Linked DNA regions of Homo sapiens. The protein of the gene in region 4 purifies or fractionates together with the protein of the main gene of each other region. This does not show direct contact. Each region holds a gene or a part of one and is shown on either strand. Other genes may lie near its edges.

Evidence for each region. The genes of interacting proteins can lie anywhere in the genome.
Region 1: the proteins of PPP2R1A (region 4) and LPP purify together in Homo sapiens (affinity purification with mass spectrometry; 5 studies listed by BioGRID and IntAct, with this or other methods). This does not show direct contact.
Region 2: the proteins of PPP2R1A (region 4) and SERTAD4 purify together in Homo sapiens (affinity purification with mass spectrometry; 5 studies listed by BioGRID and IntAct, with this or other methods). This does not show direct contact.
Region 3: the proteins of PPP2R1A (region 4) and PPP2R3A purify together in Homo sapiens (affinity purification with mass spectrometry; 7 studies listed by BioGRID and IntAct, with this or other methods). This does not show direct contact.

The regions. Positions count from the first base shown.
Region 1 is NC_000003.12:188,608,647-188,613,001, forward strand, and holds part of LPP (lipoma-preferred partner), read left to right. Parts: intron 1-514; coding exon 515-1,198; coding exon of another isoform or gene 1,199-1,219; exon of another isoform or gene 1,220-4,296; intron 4,297-4,355. UniProt on the Homo sapiens protein: May play a structural role at sites of cell adhesion in maintaining cell shape and motility. In addition to these structural functions, it may also be implicated in signaling events and activation of gene transcription.
Region 2 is NC_000001.11:210,235,786-210,240,140, forward strand, and holds part of SERTAD4 (SERTA domain-containing protein 4), read left to right. Parts: intron 1-1,500; exon of another isoform or gene 1,501-1,683; intron 1,684-2,158; 5' UTR 2,159-2,175; coding exon 2,176-2,350; intron 2,351-3,707; coding exon 3,708-3,823; intron 3,824-4,355.
Region 3 is NC_000003.12:135,968,718-135,973,072, forward strand, and holds part of PPP2R3A (serine/threonine-protein phosphatase 2A regulatory subunit B'' subunit alpha), read left to right. Parts: intron 1-4,355. UniProt on the Homo sapiens protein: The B regulatory subunit might modulate substrate selectivity and catalytic activity, and might also direct the localization of the catalytic enzyme to a particular subcellular compartment.
Region 4 is NC_000019.10:52,194,967-52,200,146, forward strand, and holds part of PPP2R1A (serine/threonine-protein phosphatase 2A 65 kDa regulatory subunit A alpha isoform), read left to right. Parts: intron 1-5,180. UniProt on the Homo sapiens protein: The PR65 subunit of protein phosphatase 2A serves as a scaffolding molecule to coordinate the assembly of the catalytic subunit and a variable regulatory B subunit.

The DNA of each region.
Region 1 (4,355 bases), on a different chromosome or scaffold from region 4:
TTTGTGGTCTTTTGTGGTTCCATGTGAGTTTTAGAATTGTTTTTTCTATGTATGTAAAACTTCATTTTGGTATTTAGATAGGGATCTCACTGCATCTATAGATAACTTTGGGTAGGATATACATTCTAACAATATCAAGTCTTTCAACCTATGAACACAGATGTTTATCCGTTTGTTTGTGTCTTGTATAATTTCTTTCACCGATGTTTAATAGTTTTCAGTATATAATCTTTCTCCTCCTTAGATAACTTTTTTCCAAGTTTTTTATGCTACTGTAAGTAGAATTTTTTCCTTTCTTTCCTTTTCTGCTATTCGTCGGCAGTGCACAGATATACAACTGATTTTTGTGTTCATCTGTGAACACTTTGAAGGCAAGATTATGCCTTATTTGTGTTCTACATAGTAATAAATAATAATTAGCAGTTATTAATATTTTTCATTTATTCATTTTTATTGAGTTTCGTTGGCAGTAATTTTTGCTTTCTTTCTTTCTTTTTTTTCCTATTCTTTTTAGAGCTCCACTGGTTCAACAGCCTCTCCTCCAGTTTCGACCCCAGTCACAGGACACAAGAGAATGGTCATCCCGAACCAACCCCCTCTAACAGCAACCAAGAAGTCTACATTGAAACCACAGCCTGCACCCCAGGCTGGACCCATCCCTGTGGCTCCAATCGGAACACTCAAACCCCAGCCTCAGCCAGTCCCAGCCTCCTACACCACGGCCTCCACTTCTTCAAGGCCTACCTTTAATGTGCAGGTGAAGTCAGCCCAGCCCAGCCCTCATTATATGGCTGCCCCTTCATCAGGACAAATTTATGGCTCAGGGCCCCAGGGCTATAACACTCAGCCAGTTCCTGTCTCTGGGCAGTGTCCACCTCCTTCAACACGGGGAGGCATGGATTATGCCTACATTCCACCACCAGGACTTCAGCCGGAGCCTGGGTATGGGTATGCCCCCAACCAGGGACGCTATTATGAAGGCTACTATGCAGCAGGGCCAGGCTATGGGGGCAGAAATGACTCTGACCCTACCTATGGTCAACAAGGTCACCCAAATACCTGGAAACGGGAACCAGGGTACACTCCTCCTGGAGCAGGGAACCAGAACCCTCCTGGGATGTATCCAGTCACTGGTCCCAAGAAGACCTATATCACAGATCCTGTTTCAGCCCCCTGTGCGCCACCATTGCAGCCAAAGGTAAGAAACTCAGTAACATAAGGAGGAGAATACAGGGGTGCCTATCTTAGTCTGCCTTCCCCAGGAAGCGAAGCCTAAGGCAAAAGTGTGTGTGTTACTTTTATTTCACTGACAAATACAATCCCAGGGAAGGATGAGTGAAGCCAGAGAGGAGAGAGAGACTACTTAGTATGTTACTAATATGGCCACTGTTTAGTATCAAATGGAATTGCTTGCTCAATCTCAGAGAATCATCTTCCAAAGCCCACAGACACCATAGCATCTGAGGACAAAGTGTTCTGATGGAGAAAGAGAAAATAATTTATTTTTCACATCCTTCCCTATATTGGTTAAAGCTTCCCTCTGTTGTGCAGAAACTTCCTCTACACCTTGCATTTGCTTGGACATTAAACAGGTCTGTAGTATCTCAAGCCTCAGCAAGGGTAGTGATCTATGGGTGAGACATGTGGAGGGCAAAACTGAGTGAACTGCTGTCAGGCTGTGGCCCTGTGAAGGCGATTATAACTCCCGCAATGTTGGTACCACAGCGGTTGCTGGGCCAGAACAAGTGGCCAAGGACCCAGGAAATGGGTGAGGCCAAGCAGGTCTAAGATAATGCAAATGCCTTGGACAGTTTCTCCTTTGAGAAGGGGCTGCAGTATAATGCAGCTTGTTTGTGACCCCTTGTTTATTCATTTTACTAATCCTCCAGAAAGAATCTTATTCTTCAGCCTTTAGCACTATTAAGCAATGTTTAAAAACTCCTTATGAGTGACAGTTACTTCTTATTTGATTTAATTGTCCATATGTGGACCTTTTAAGTTAACACTCTCTGTTACTTCGTCTGAATAGGTAAGGTGTAATACTACACATGCCCACTCACCACAACTTGGATTTTTCATTAGTACTGGAACCAACACGATGTTGATTCCTCCCATTATGACTAGAGGAACCAATAAGAATAACTTGGAATCGGTGAAAATAGAGGAACTGAGCCAGTTTCCAGCCACTTGGGTTGGAAGAGTGCCCTTGCTTCTTTTCAGTTAGAACTGTGAGAAATCAGAAATTTGAGAGCCCTCAATTAGCTAGAAGTTCAATGGTAGTTTTGGGGGATGGATTGGGTAGAAGTTTGGACTGTATTTTTAAAAATTCTTTCCACATTTTTACAAGATTGTCCATTTCAAGACAGATCTATTCACATATTCAACATTGTATCAAAAATTTCCTTATAGGGTATTTACTAAACTGTTTTTCTTATATGAAAGCGTCTGCCATATTAATGGTGTCCTATGTGAATTTCACATTCTATAGGGGAATAGAGCTCTTCCTGACAGTGGGGACTGTGAAGAGCTGGAGAAATCCTATAGCCTTATGTGTGACCACTATATGAAATTGGCCAGCCATGATCCCTTTCCGATAGATAGATTCCAAATTAGAATTTTAAATGATTTTAAACATGACTCAGTTTCTTAAGTCTCTCTATGAAAAGAAATGTTATTACAGTTTTTTATTTCTTTTTAAAATGAATTTGTCCATAATAGCCAATCTGGACAGCCTTGCTCTTTGTTAATGTCGCAGTATATTTGCACCAGTGCCTCCTGGCCCAGTCAAGGGGAGTCTATTTTCAAAACAACCAGTTCAGAGAAACAGATTATTCAACTTAACCACAGTTTTTGTTTTCAACAATTGCAACAGATTTACCCAGGGAAGATTACAGTAAAATAAAATTTTAGGTCAGAACAACTGCTGTCAAGGTTTAAGTTCAACTAGACAGACAATTTAGCCCTGCCCAAAACAGGGTGACTGAAAGGATGGCTGAGTGATGTTCCTGAAGGAATGACATGGTGTCTGCCTTGTTGGAGGATTGTGTTATCCCACATAGGAACCAGACATGAGAGAAAGCAAAACTATGTGTCTTGATGAGACTCACCTGGTGAGAGGTACTGAGCTAGTCTTCAGATGTTGTTTTCTCACTAAGTCACTGGGCACTCTGGCCAGCCTCTCTTCAGCATTTGGAACCCATCCATTGGTGTAGGAAAAAGAATCAGCCCCCACTGCTAGAACTGGATCTAAAGTGCTGGGTCCAGCCACATCCCTAACATTTGGCCTGTCCTCACCAACTGACACAGGGAGATGGAATGAATTTTTATAAACCACTCATCAGAAAACATGGAACTTTATTTTACTTCTTATTTGAGCAAGGTGGTTATTCAAGATGATCTATTAGATGATTACAGATTTTGGATATCAGTAGATTTCATGTTATTTTTAAAATTTTTGATATATTTGTTTTTCAACAGTTTCATGTGTTTTCACATCATATTCGGCTGTGCATTGAAAAAATGAAAATCAAACCATGTACTTTTCACTCTGATTATTAAGAGTGGTTAGAGGTTGATATTTAGCCATCTGTCCTGTCTGTGCTTTGGGAAAGGGGGAAGAGGCTGATGAAGTTATGGATAAATTCTGGGCGCGTTGTGAGGGCATTGGCTGATGAAAGGGTGGGTTCCTTCACAGTTGGCCTTTGAGCAAAACACTACTGTATTCTACTGCACCTGTGCACAGAGGACCTTATTGTCCTTATATTGACTGTTTGGCTTAATTATGTGACTACGGGCATGAGAAATGAGCTCCGAATTCTTATCCCAGTTCTTTCCTTGACATTCCTCTTCCAGTTTGAGGAAAACCTCTAGACCTCTTTATGTCATGCTTCAAACCTCAGTAAAGTAGAACACCATCTTTACTAATTAATTAATGATTGCAAAAGGCTTGGAAATTTCCAAAGGCTGAATAATTGCCAAGTGAAGACTATTCAGCTTTCCACTCGCTTTCATTTATTTTTAATTTTTTTTAGTCACTGATGGAAAACTTACCCTCATGTCTGAAAACAATTATACTTTATTACATTGAGTGCTTCTGGGGAGTTTGGCATTTAACCCATTAAGGAAAAAGTTTAAAAGATGAAATAAATAAATCTCCCTTATATTTGAGATGAGCTGCTTTAGTTTTCCTATATCAGGATAGTATAAAAAGAGGAATATGATATAGTAAAAAAGAGGAGAGACAGGATGGGGAAAAGGAGAAAGGAAAGAAAAAATGAAAAGGAAAAAATGAAGAAAGGAAAGAGGCAGAATGAGAACCTGCAAGGCTTAGGGGATCATGATTATGTTTATGTTCC
Region 2 (4,355 bases), on a different chromosome or scaffold from region 4:
AGCCTGCAAATGTTTTTCTTTCTTAAGGGGCATGAGTTTGACAACCTGCTTTTGTTTACATGAAATAAAAGTCTGCATAGGCAAAAGGCTTGCATCTTATTCCCATGATCTAACACAAAAGTGAGTGTAAACTTCAAACTAGAAAATGTTGATTCTCTCAATAAGAAAGGGCTGCTGACTGTTGAAAAGCTGTAATTCATGTGCTCTTGGCAATAGTATTTCCTGATATGATTGTCTCTTAGAATAGGTGAAGAAACTGGACAATTTCATGAGAGTCTTCCAGGGAATAAATCATCATGAAGTTTGATACCCTACTTGGATGAGGAGTTTGAGAAATGATAGACAGAAGGACTTAATTTGTTAAATCAATGTAGGCTAAATTTCTTTGTTGATGACTCAAAGAGAAAAATAAATGACATGTCCCATCGTTTCTTTGTAAAGATTTAATCGAACCTTTCTTTTGCCCACTTGTTTTAAGGTTTACTAATAAGTCCGTACTGATGTCTCTTTGGAGGGCATCTTAAAAGAGAACGGGGAGGTGTTGTAGCAGCCCAAACCAGCTGAGTCCTAATTCTCTCCACTGACCTGTACACCTTCCCTGTCTGTCAAAAGATCTTGCTTCATTATTCAGTGTGGTTGGGACAGAATTTGAGACCTCAGAGAGAAGACTGGGTGAAAGGTAGAGTCATTGCTGCCAAGAGCTGCTCTTTTAGCCAGAAGGACATTGTCACTTTAATGATGCTATTTCGCCTTACCCTGGTGTTTTTCCTCTTTTTCCTTGGAAGTGGACCCTTGTTATAGCATGTAGGTAATAATAGTCTCCCACGAGACAATGGTAGATTCACTCTTTCCCAGAAACATTACAAGCTGTATAATTTGGAAAAGAAAGCAAGAACTGGGCCCTTAGTTTATGTTTGAAAGACAATCAATCTTCAGAAAGCCTGACGTCACTTGTGTGACAGTTCTTGAAACCACAGAATGAGATAGTGGGGGCTTGAGTCTCCTAAAGGGATTGGCAGTTAAGGAGGCACTGAGGTTGCGCTACTGTCACCACTGGTCTATGGCTGCTAGGTCTTTTTACCTTCATATCAGACTCTCCTCTCCCTTGAACTTACTCTTGACCCTACCTCGAGACCTGCAAAGGGCCAAGTGAAGACACAGAGCCCCCATGAAAGCGGCCTCACTGCCTGAGCTATCGAGGGGCCCAGGAAGCCTCACAGAGCAGAGAAGCTCCCATCTCCCTGCAGGCCCAAGGGAGAAGGGCGTGAACTGGAGAGAAGGGCAGTGATGTGTTGCCTCTTGGAAAGTTCCTGCTCTGTGTCTGGGCTTTGCAGTGTAAAGAGTTGTTGGCTGCCTCTGGCCCCAGAGCCTGGCTCCTGTTTAATATTCTGCCTGCTCCGTTGATGTTGTGCTTGGCTCCTGTGGGACTGCAACTCACGGCTTGAAACTGGAGCCAATTTTCTGTCTTCATCTCGCAGTGTTTTGACTGGAGGCAGATCCAGTTCAGGCCGATCAGGGCTGGTGGAAACAACTACCAAGTGTCTCTCTGTCTGCTTTGCTTTGGGAGAAGAAAGTGGAGGGAGCCCCAGCATGTTGTAGAGGAACTGGCCTGCGGAAACGAGAGGAGGAGGGTGCAGGGGGCAGCGGAACAGACTGAACCTCAGAGCATCAGTTGGAATTACGGTGGATATTTCTGCTTCCCCTGCCCTTTTCTTTTGATTGATTAGTGGATTTCATCAAAGGAGACTCCCGGGGGATTGACTAGAAAATTGATTTTGCCTTATTAATAGAAAGGAAGCGCAAGGGTTTTGGCTTCTTAGCAGTACATTTTCTTTGGAAGGTCAGGAGGAAAATGTGTTTAGGAGGCAAAGCAGCTGTCTAGAAGAGGGCTGAAGGGAATCTGAGAACAATAAGAAATGGGGTTTTAAAGATCCGCCCATGAAATGCAGATTGCTGAACACAGAGGCTGAGCTAATAGCAGCTAGAGAGTTTGCTGAGGTTTTCTTTGAAAAAATAATAAAATGTTTCAGGGTAAAGGGGAGGGCCGAGAAGTAAAAGTTTCCCAAAGCAAAGAAATGAAGATGCCAAGGCCGTCCCTTGGCTTGCTCTTGATTAGGGCTGTTTTCTTCATTCTTGTTTTTTTTTTTTTTCTTTTCAGATCTGAGGCTGTCAGAGATGACTCTGGTTCTGTCCATGAATAGATTCTGCGAGCCCATTGTCTCGGAAGGAGCTGCTGAAATTGCTGGGTACCAAACACTATGGGAGGCTGACAGCTACGGAGGCCCAAGCCCCCCAGGGCCAGCACAAGCTCCTTTGCAGGGAGACCGGGGAGCTGGTCCCCCACTGGCAGGTATTGCCCTTGACCTGCGCCCATCCCCCCCACCCCTCGCTGCCCTTTGCAGCCAGCCTGGTGGACAGGAGGTGGTGTCTGGGGTGCCCCTCTGAGCCAGGAGAGCTAAAGCTCCAGGGACTTCCCGGGCTGCCTGTGCGCCTCTCATAAGTGAGTCCAGAGCTCCAGAGAGAGGACCAGAGGTGATATTTAAATTGCATTCAAACCTGTGTCTACCCATGCTGCTTTTTGAATATAAGTCATGTGTCTGTATTTTTAAGAGGGCCAAACCAGATATTGAAACTCTGAGTTTGGGTTTTGGTTTTCTACCCTGTGGAACTGTATGGTTCTCTCACAACTATGAAAGCTCTGGTGGGCTCAACAATGACACCTTTATCCCATGAGATATAAAGGAATCTGCACTTTGGGCCAGCAGCTATGAGCTTCTTTTCTTTGTTAACCCATTTATGCCCAGTGTTCCATTATTGGAACGCTAAGCTTGTGGAAGTTATTTATATCCTACTGCTCAAGGTCATCACCAAGGTCTGACTTTTCAAACACAAAAAAATTTGCAACCTATGGCATAAATGGGTAAAGCACACAATTGGTTTTAGGATTGTAGGAAAAAAATTTAAAGCCAAGAAAATAGAAGTATGTTCTTCCTGATTCTTTCTTCTTATAGTTTAAGTTCCTTTGGATTTTTTTGCAGTATTAGCTATTTTTAAAAGAAACTAAAATATAAAACAAGTACTCAATGAAGTCTGTTTTGCTAAAAAAGATTAAAAACTGTGGTCTTCATGGTTGGCATACTACATTTTGGAGAGTGAAAAGGACATTAGTTACCCAAAATTTTAACTCAAATTTTAAAAATTTGAATTTTGTATTTTGAAAAAAAGGAATGCTATAATCCCAATGTGCAGATAACCATTTGTTCACTAACCTAAAGCCAATAAGATTTCAAAGTTGTTTGGTTATCAGTGGTTACAGTTAAAGATGTATACATCTTTAACAGTGGTGCTATGTTGTCATGAATTTAATTAAACAATTTAAATAAATACTAATATATTTTAGAGAAATTACACTCCTCCCCTTTATGAATGTTGCAGTTTCCTTTTGCATAGAATTAAGATTCTGCATATTTATTAAATGCTAAAATATGTGATTTTCCTCTATAATTGCCTAGAAATCTTTTCCTAGCCTGGGTCACAGGATTCCATATGATAGCAACTATTAAGACAAATGTTTATTTTTAATCACCACATGTACAGACAAATATGTAGCCAAGTTATCCTCTAGAAGGAAAGGAAACGAAAGTATTTTGTTTGGAGAACCTCTGGCAAACCGCATGTCATTTGTCATATCTGATTTATTACCACAGGATCACATTACAGGGGAATTTCAAATCCTATAACAACATCCAAGATCACATACTTTAAGAGGAAGTATGTGGAAGAAGAGGATTTTCACCCACCACTCAGCAGCTGTAGCCATAAAGTATGTTTTTTTAATAGTCATTATTTTTATTAAGAGTTTAAGATACTTAGTAACAGTTGCTTGATCCACTTCCAGGAATTAAATTGTTTCACCCAAGCAATGAAAATGAGCCACTTCTCAGTGGAGCCTCATTAATCGTTGTCGCTTTTTTGGGTCCTGTGTTATTTTTCACAAGTACTTGAAGAAAAAGCTGGCAAGAGCTATTCTACCCAGAAATGTCAAAATTATGTAATCCAAGGAATTTTTTTTAACGTATGATTTAATATTTCTCAGACTGTGTTTTGGGTTATGGTTCTTCCACACTTTTGTGTGTGGGGAATGCGCTCGTTCTTTCCTGTCATGTTCTCCCCAGTCTGAGTTCTGGCTCCTGCAGCCAATGCTACTTCCCTGTGTGTCCACATGGGGGTGGTTACACAGGGCTTTTCCTGACCTCTTATGGGTAGACTCATCATCCTTGAATGTGTGTATACAAGTAGAAATATGCACTTCACTGGACATGGGTTACATATAAGTTTGTTGAAACATGGACTTC
Region 3 (4,355 bases), on a different chromosome or scaffold from region 4:
AAGGAATAACCACTGATACTAGTTTTGTATATCATTGTAGACATTTTTTGTGGGCATTCAAGGAAATGCATATCTTTCCTCTTACTGTTTTACACAAATGGTAGCATACTGTACACTCTGTTTTCTTAAAAATGTCTTGGGAATCTTTCCACTTCAGTATATAGTTTCCTTATTTTTTTGAATGACTGTACAGTATTTCACTGTATGGATATACCATAGATTATTTAACCATTCCCCCACTGACAGACATTTAGATTGTTTCCAGTAATTTACCGTAAACAGTGCTACGAATATGCTGTTTCATATGTGAATAAATATATTTATAGGGTAAATTCCTAGAAATGGAATTGTTGGGTGAAATAAACACACAAACACATATATTTACATAAGTATATATTTATGTAATGCGTGTATATGTGTATATATTTGTAATTATTTGTGATTATAAAATATTCTGGTCATATTAGAATGCTTTGGAAGGAAACAAGATTGAGTGTGGGAGACAGCTGCCCCTAATTAAGGTTACTGTGGATAACATAGGAGAGAAAAGGTGGTGGCTGAGAGAAAAGAATGGTCGTATTGGAGATGGAGAGAAGTACATATATTCATGAGATATATTTAGGAGGCGTAATTGATAGGATTTGGTGGTTGATATGGTACAAGGGTTGAGAGGGAGAAATGAGATCCTAAGATGACTCCCAGGGTTCTAGCTTGCCCAACCAGTGAATGGTGGTGGTGTTACCTGAAGTAAAGAACATTTAAGGATAAATAGTTTTGAGATGAGTTTAAATCACAGTTTACATTGGGACTGCTGAGATTTTCAAGTGAGAGGTCACATAAGCATTTGACAATTCTAATTCAGAGCCAAGAGCAGAGGGCTAAACTGGAGGCACGAATTTTTAGGTGTAAATTAAAGGCTGTGGATGAAATTATCTAGGGCAGTGGTTGCAAAGCAGTAGCCTACAGCTGAATCTGACTCACAGATGTTTTGCCCATACAGTGGTTTTGTTATTGTTTAATTTTGAATTAGTTGCCAATATTTTAAAATCTGAAGATTTCTCATGAAAAATCCAGATTTGGGGTTTCTCTTTAAAAATGAGAAAATGTAGCACTACTGAGTTGGTTTTCCAATATGGCAGCAATAATTGGAGCTAAGTCACAGATGATCGCAGCTCTTCTATTTCACTACAGAGCCCACCACTCCCTAAAATTATGCCTGGCCCACTTTGCTCATTTATTTCTCTGACTGTAGGCTTTTGAGCATGTGATCCCTGGTCTGGGAAGAGAGCATAGAACAGTGTTCTCATCTTGGTTGCACATTGGAATCACTGAATGATTAAAAAATGCTAATGCTGTGGTCCACCTAAGAAATTTCTTTTTCTGTTTACTTGATCTGATTTGCTGCCTTGGACGAATCTGAGGTGATTCCACTTAGCTGTGGAAGTTGAGAACCACTGACAGAGATTAAGAAAAAAGGGCTCAGGCCCAGCATTTTGAAGTTTAGTAGAGGAGGATAGCCCAGGAAGAGAATGAGAAGTGGCCACAGAGGTACAGTGGAATGACGCCTTGCTCAGAATTAAAGTGTGCAAACTTAACTGAATGCGCTCTACCATGTTTTTTATTAAATGAGAGAGAGAAAAGTTTTATTTACTTGTATACAGGTGTGCGATATTTAACGGGCCATTTAAAGGATTTTCAAGAGTAATTTAAACAATATTTGGTTTTTGTCTTAGCTGTTTCCTTCACAATCTAATTCTAGTTTAAGATGCATCATAAAAGGTGAGAGAAGAATGTTTCAAATAGAGAGGTGTCATCAAGTAAAGATGTGGAACAAAAATGATCTGTTGAATTTAGCAAGATGGAGTCTTTGACCTCAGCAAGAACCATTTTAGATTGGAAGAGGCAGAAACCAAAATGAAGTGGGTAAAAAGTAAGGAAATGGGAGTGGCAAGTGTTGGAAATTCCTTTGAGAAGCTTGCCCAAAAAGAGGAAGTGGTGAGGGAGGATGAGGTGTCTTACATGCCTACAATGTAGGTGTTAGTCTGTTGGTTACTCAAACATTTCTCCTAACTTTTTAGGGATGTAGGTCAATGGTGTCTGATTACCCCTCTCCCACGTTCTTAGGGGTCTTGTTTTGGAGACTACTTTTTACTGAGAAGAAATTTTGCCAGGACTGTTGAAGGGGCTGACTCAGATGTTGGTGATTAGGCCACAAGTTTCTTTCTCAACTGGAAAGCTGTAGAGCTCCTAAAGGCCAGTGGTGATCTGGGCTCCAGTGACCCTGACATCATCCTCCCATTGAGCTGATGAACAAAGACTATATTGTTGGTATGCTGAAAATGGAATACTTGGCTATGTTAGGGAATGTGTATCTAACTGTGAGATTCCCAGGAATAGTTTTTGCAGCTGTATTTTTTCCAATTAACTTGATATTATAGCTTAATTTTCCAGTTGCATGCATGTAAAAACTCTCATACTTTGAAGTATTTATCATTGATGGTACCTGAGGGATATGGATGTAAGTTGGAGATGTAGGCCCTCATTGAGCTCAGAAAGAAGAAAGCACTGAGCAAACTGGTTTCCAAAAAGTTGTGTGAAGGCTTCTACCTCGAAGACTTGGTGTTAGAGTGACTATTTAGGATGGGTTGTAATGCAAATGGTCACAACCAGTTTGTCTTTTATCCATTTCTGCCACATTGGCAACCTTAACCTAGCAGAGAGGCTTTTAAGGTCAATTTTGTGCTTCATATTTCTAAGAGTTGTAGCCTGCCAACAGAACAGAAAATATAAGGGGTGGAAAATGCCAAGAATTATTGGTTAAGAATGGTTTTGATTAATTGAAGGCATAAACCTCATTGCTATACTCTTGAAAACAGGAATATCATCTTGTGAGGGACCAGACTTCATAGCTGTCATTGGTTTATCAGTTAGGTGGATGATGGTTAACTTCTGTATAAAGGATGACTTTGTGACATGAAAGCAGACCTTGGTCCAAGATGGTTTGTAATGTGAGTCCATTATAAGAAAATATCTTATTTAGAAACTTGTGTATGCTTGGACAGCTGTGGGAATTCCATCATCACAAATATGGTTAGGTACTATGCCTGGCTGGCAGTATATAGAGGCAAAAGTCCATTACCAAGGTGGTCCAGAGCTCCTTTGGTTTGTGGAGGAAACAGGATAGCTGAGTGGGGAGAGGACTTGGAGTCAGTTCCTGAGTATAGTTCCTGGATTTGTCAAGGGTGAACTGTGTGATTTTTTTTAATTGAGGTAAAATTAACCATTTTAAAGTGTACAAATCAGTTACTTCAGTATGTACATTCACAATGTTGTGCAGCCATCACCGCTAATTCTGGAACATTTTCATCACCCCAAAAGGAAACCCTGTACCCATTAAGCAGTCACTCGCCATTCCCCTTTACCCCTACCGTCTGGCACCCGCCAATTTGCTTTCTGTCTATATGGATTTGCCTGTTCTGAAGATTTCATATAAATGGAATCATACAATATGTAACCTTTTGTGCCTGGCTTCTTTCATTCAGCACAATGTATACGAGGTTCACTCAGGTTGTAGCATGTATCAGTACTTCATTCTTTCTTTGGCTGAATAATACTCCATTGTATGGATATACTACGTTTTGTTTATCAGTTGACATTTAGATTGTTTACACCTTTTGGCTCTTATAAATAGTATTGCTAAGAGCATTCTTCTACAAGTTTTTGTTTAAATACCTGTTTTCAATTCTTTTGTGCATGTATCTAGGAATAGAATTGCTGGATTATGAAATAATTCTATGTTTAAAAAGTTTTTGAGGAACTCCCAGACTGTTTTCCACAGATGCTGCACACTTTTACATTTTTTCCAGCAATTTTTGAGAATTCTAGTTTCTCCACCTCCTCGCCAGCACTTTTGTTTTCTGGTTATAGCCATCCTAGTGGGTGTGAAGTGGTGCCTCATTGTGATTTTTATTTGTATTTCCCTAATGACTACTGACGTTGAGCATCTTTTCATGTGTTGGCCATTTGTGTATCTTTGGAGAAATGTCTGTTCAAGTCTTTTATCAATTTTTTAATTGGATTGTCTTTTGGTTGTTGAGTTTAAGAGTTCTTTACATATGTAAATATGGATACAAATCAGGTTTATGATTTGCAAATATTTCCTGTCTTACTGTGTGCTGTTTTTTCACTTTCTTGTTAGTGTTCTTTGCACAGAAGTTTTTAATTCGTGTGAAGTTGAATTTGTTTTTTCTTTGATTGTGTATGCTTTTGGCATTATATCTGACAATCTATCACCAAATCCAAGGTCCTGCCAGTTTACTCCTGTGTTTTCTTCTGGCAATATATAGTTTTAGTTC
Region 4 (5,180 bases):
GAAGCAGTTGTGACAAGCCAGGCCCAGTGAGAATGGATCAGTAGACTAGGGTCAGATTGTGTTGGGCCTTGTAGGCCAGAGTAAGGCCTTAGCTTTTATTCTGAATGTGCAGGGAAAACATACTACATGTGGGATTATACCATATACATTCATATTATGGAAGGCTCCATGGGTTGAATGCAGGGTGGATCTTCAAAAGTGGGTCCCCTTTCCACAGGTGCATATAGTGGGAAGGCGGATTTTATTTATTAACTCACCACAGAGCAGGCTCTGTGCCGAGGCCTGCTGGGACACAGAGAGTCCCAGTCTAGGGTGGTAAGTGCTGTCATGGAACCATATGGGTGGACTCTTTGGAAAATCCCAATTCCTATTCTCTCACTTAACACAACAATCAACAACACAGAAGAAGACTTCCGTGACTAAATGTGTGTTGGGGTGGGGAGGGATTCTTCACCACCACTAAGCAAGCATTCAGTTCTGCAGCACACGCCAACTGGATGTCCTCCAATTCAGTTCAGACACGACCTGGAGACAGTGTTGGATCCAACAGGTTGAGGGCTCAGGCCTCAAAACTGCCCCTTGGCCCTCGCCTTCAGTTGCCATTCTGGGTCGTCAGAACTTCTGATCTACCTGCTTCAAGTTGGAGTTCCCATGACCACCCTGCCTTTGGGTTTGATTAATATGCTAGAGCAGCTCTCAGAACTCAGGGAAACATGTAAGTTTATCAGTTCATTATAAAGGATAGTATAAAGAATACAGATGAAGAGAGGCATAGGGTGAGCTATGGGGGAAGGGGTGTGGAGCTTCCATGCCCTTCTTGGGTGCACCACCCTCCAGGAACCTCTGTGTGTTCGGCTATGTTGAAGTTCCCAGGCCCTGTCCTTTTGGGTTTTTATAAAGGCATTGTTAGGTAGGCAGGATTGATTAAACCTGGTGATCACCTTGACCTTCAGCCCCTCTCCGATCCCTGGAGGTTGTGGGGTGGGACTGAAAATCCCAACCCTCTAATCATGCCTCTCTGTTTTCCATGACTATCTTTCCAGTGACCATGGACCCCATCCTGAAGGTATCAGTCAACATTAGCATACAAAAAGCGCCTTGGAGATTCCAAAGATTTGAGGAGTTGTATGCAAGGAAATGGGGATGAAGCCCAAATCTGTATCTCACAGTATCACAACTGTAGCAGGTGCTTGGTGGGGACACACTTGGGAGATAGTCAGTGCACAGGGAATTCTCAGGATATGACATGATCAATGGCCAGTCAAGGTTTCTGAAATGATATTAATAGATTTTCTATCAGGAATGTGACGGAGACCCCAACCTAGAGTTGTTTAAACAAGTAAGAGTTCTCTTTATTTCTCATATAGCAAGTTCAGCAGCTCAAAGCTATCACAGAATTGGGTCAGCTCAAAGATATCACAGAAATGCGGTTTTTTTGACTGGCCTGTTTTGGTTATAAGATTCCAGCAGCATCTGCTGTCCTAGTGGAACTGCACTTTTTAGTGCAGTTTAGCAGAGGCCAGCTTAGGACACAGAGGTTCTTTCCCTCCTCCCTTTTATGAAGGAGGAAAATCTCTCCTGAATCTCCTCAGCAGACTTGCTTGTATATCTCTTTGCCAAGAACTAGGTCATATGCAGAGTTAGTTGAAGTTAAGTTTGGCTGTAAGTAGTAGAAAAACTCTAAATAACAGGGGCTTAAATGAGCTTGAAGTTTCTATCTGACTGATGACCAAAATGTCTGGTGGCAATCCAGGCTGCTGTGGCACTTCATGGTGTCAGGGTCCCAGGCTCTTACCATTATGCGCTGGTTGTATCCTCCATTCTACCCTCCGTGTCCCCCAGGTTACCTCAGGTCCCCAAGTTGGCTGCCGAAGCCCCAACCATTATAGCTCCATTCCAGACAGGAAGGAGGGAAGATAAGTGTGACCCCCATCCCTATAAGTTGCACAAAACATTTCCACTTGGATTTTATTGGCCAGATGTTAGTTTTATAGTCACATTCAGATGCAAAGGCAATTCAGAAATGTCTTTTCCAGGGGTCATGTGTACAGCTGAAAACCAAGGATTATGAACAGCAGTATAGCCCCATGCAGGAGCTCCTAACTTGGGGATCATCTGCAATTCCCAGGCAGGTCCATGAATTTGGATGGCAAAAATAACATCTTTATTTTCATTAACCTTTAACTTACATTTAACTTCCCTTCTGTTATAGATTATAATATCACTATAGTATATCATAGGTAGCGTTAGCAAAACCTGTGACTTACCAGTGGAAATCAGGAGTTGTGTTCACATGTCATTTCTGCTATTATACATATCTTCTAGTGTTGTTTATGTTCACCTCTTTCAAAATTGCGTTCATTATTAGACCTGCTAAGGGGATTCATGGCACCACCCCACCCCTCTACAAGAGAAAAACCAAAAAAAGCCGGGTGCAGTGGCTCATGCCTATAATCCTAGCATTTTGGGAGGTCGAGGTGGGAGGATTGCTTGAGCTCAGGAGTTTGAGGGCAGCTTGGGCAACATAGTGAGGCCTCATCCCTACAAAAAGTTAAAAAACTAGCTGGGCTTGGTGACACCTGCCTGTAGACCCGTCTACTTGGGTAGCTGAGGCGGGAGAATCACTTGAGCCCGGGAGGTCAAGGCTACAGTGAGCTACGATTGTGCCACTGCACTCCAGCCTGGGTAACAGAGTGAGACCCTGCCTCAAAACAACAACAAGCACAACAAAAAAGAAAAAACAGAGCAAATATGAATCCATAGTACTGGTTAAGAACCTGGTGGCTGGGATTCAAATCCTGGCTTTACTACCAGTAAGCTGTATGCAGTTAAGCTCCCTGTGCCTTTGTGTTCTCTGCCTCAAGACGGGGGATTCTGTATTTCCCTCATGGGATTGTGAGGGTCAAATGAATTAAAACATTAAAGCCTGGGGCATAGTAGAGACTAAGGAAATATTTACTGTTATTATTCTGTCATGGTGAAAAAAGGGAAAAGAAACATCAGTGGACCAGCTGCCACGATGTCCTTCTTAATAATCTGAACAAAATCAGGATGCTGTCAGTGAGGCGTGGTTGCCACGGCTGCCATTATTAATCTTCCCCTGGTGCTAGGGTGTCCCTGTAGAATGTCATTTTGTACTCAAGACAACCCTCTGAGGGTAGGTATTCTCATCATCCCCACTTCACAGATGAGAAAATTGAGGCTCAGAAAGGTACAAGGATTGCCCAAGATTCCACAGCTAATATGTAAGCAGTTTAGCCTTGAACCTGGACAGTGCAGCTCTGTAGTACCACCCTAGGCCATCTTTCTCAAGCATTGATGATGCTGTCTGCCTGAAGAAACACTTTTAATGAAACCAAAAGCAGAATCCCAAAGAACAGCAGTGGAAGGAAGGGAGCTCTCTGGATGGGAAAGCAGCCTGATTGTCATGGGCCCACCTCTTGGGCATCCCCAGCTTCAAGTTGGGGTTCCCACGACCCCCTCTTTGGGTTTGATTAATTTGCTGGAGCGGCTCACAGAACTCCAGGAAACACTTAGGTTTACCGGTTTATTATAAAGGATATTCCAAAGGATACAGATGAAGAGGTGCATAGGGTGAGCTATGGAGGAAGGGGCGGGGAGCTTTCGTGCCATCCCTGGGGATGCCACCCTCCAAGAATGTGCATGTTCTGCTATCAGGAAGCTCTCTGAATCCTTTCCTCTTTGGTTTTTATGGAAGCTTCATGATACAAACATTTTTGCCTAAATGACAGTATGATATTGAAATTGAGTCAGGCTGCCTGGCTTCATTGCTTTCCAGTAAGTGACAGCCTCACCTCTGTGCATCAGTGTCCTCACTCGCCTCTGTGCATCAGTGAAGTGGGGACGCTGCTAACAATACATACCTCAGAGCAGTTATGAGGATTCAGTGTGTTAATCATCCATGTCAATCACTTGGATTGCTGCCAAGCACGTAGCAAACAATAAATGTTTGTTGCTATTGTTCTGGCATTTATGATTATGATTATTAATTGTAATTATTCCCTGTACCATCTCATTGTCCTCAGGGCTGTTGCTCACCTAGTATGGCCCTAGCCCATGTGTATATTTCCCCATAGCTCAGGCTGAGAGAAGAACACACAGATCAACTTGGAGAAAACAAAGAGGAAAGAAATAGGCAACTAGGTCAATACTCCCCACAGTATTTTATGTTATTTTATTTTATTTATTTATTTATTTGAGACAGAGTCTCACTCTGTCACCCAGGCTGGAGTGCAGTGGCACCATCTCGGCTCACTGCAAGCTCCACCTCCCAGGTTCACGCCATTCTCCTGCCTCAGCCTCCCGAGTAGCTGGGACTATAGGCGCCCGCCACCACGCCCGGCTAATTTCTTTTTGTATTTATGGTAGAGACGGGGTTTCACCGTGTTAGCCAGGATGGTCTCGATCTCCTAACCTCATGATCCGCCTGCCTCGGCCTCCCAAGGTGCTGGGATTACAGGCATGAGCCACTGCGCCTGGCCTCCCCACAGTATTTTATTATGAAAGTTTTCAGACATGCATAACTTTGGAAGACTAACACAAGGGTCAGCAGACTACAGTCCATGGGTCCAATTCAGCCCACTGTCTGCTTTTGCAAGTAAAGTTATTGGAACACAGCTATGCCTGTTTGCTTCTCTAGTTCTGGTTCTATGGTTGTTTTCAGTGCCACGCAAGCAGAGTTCAGTAGTTAGGTTTGCAAAGCTGAAAATAATTACTGTCTGGCAATGTATAGAATAAGTTTTGCTGACTTCTAGCATAGTGCAGTGAGCACCTCTATACTTACACCCCAGGTCAGTGATTGTTAGTGTTTGCTATATTAGTTTTTTATCTTTCTATAGGTCTGTCTCTATATACGTTTTATTTTTTAGCTGAAAATCAGTTGCAGGTTTTGTAGTACTTTATCCTGAGGTCCGTTTAATGCCAGAATGGTGAGTTTTTGGACTACCTGTATGAAAGATTTACTGTGTGCATTTTTCTGAGGAGAGACCATCACAACACTTCATCAGATGCTCATCGTCTGTGATCGCAGAGATATTCTTCAACTCCTGGACCGGAGAACCCAACTCACGCAAGATCTTAGTCACTTGTAGACCTCGTCTCAGTTATGTAGGGCCTCAGAACAGAACAGGCTAAGGGAGCTCCTGCTCCTCAACCTCGCC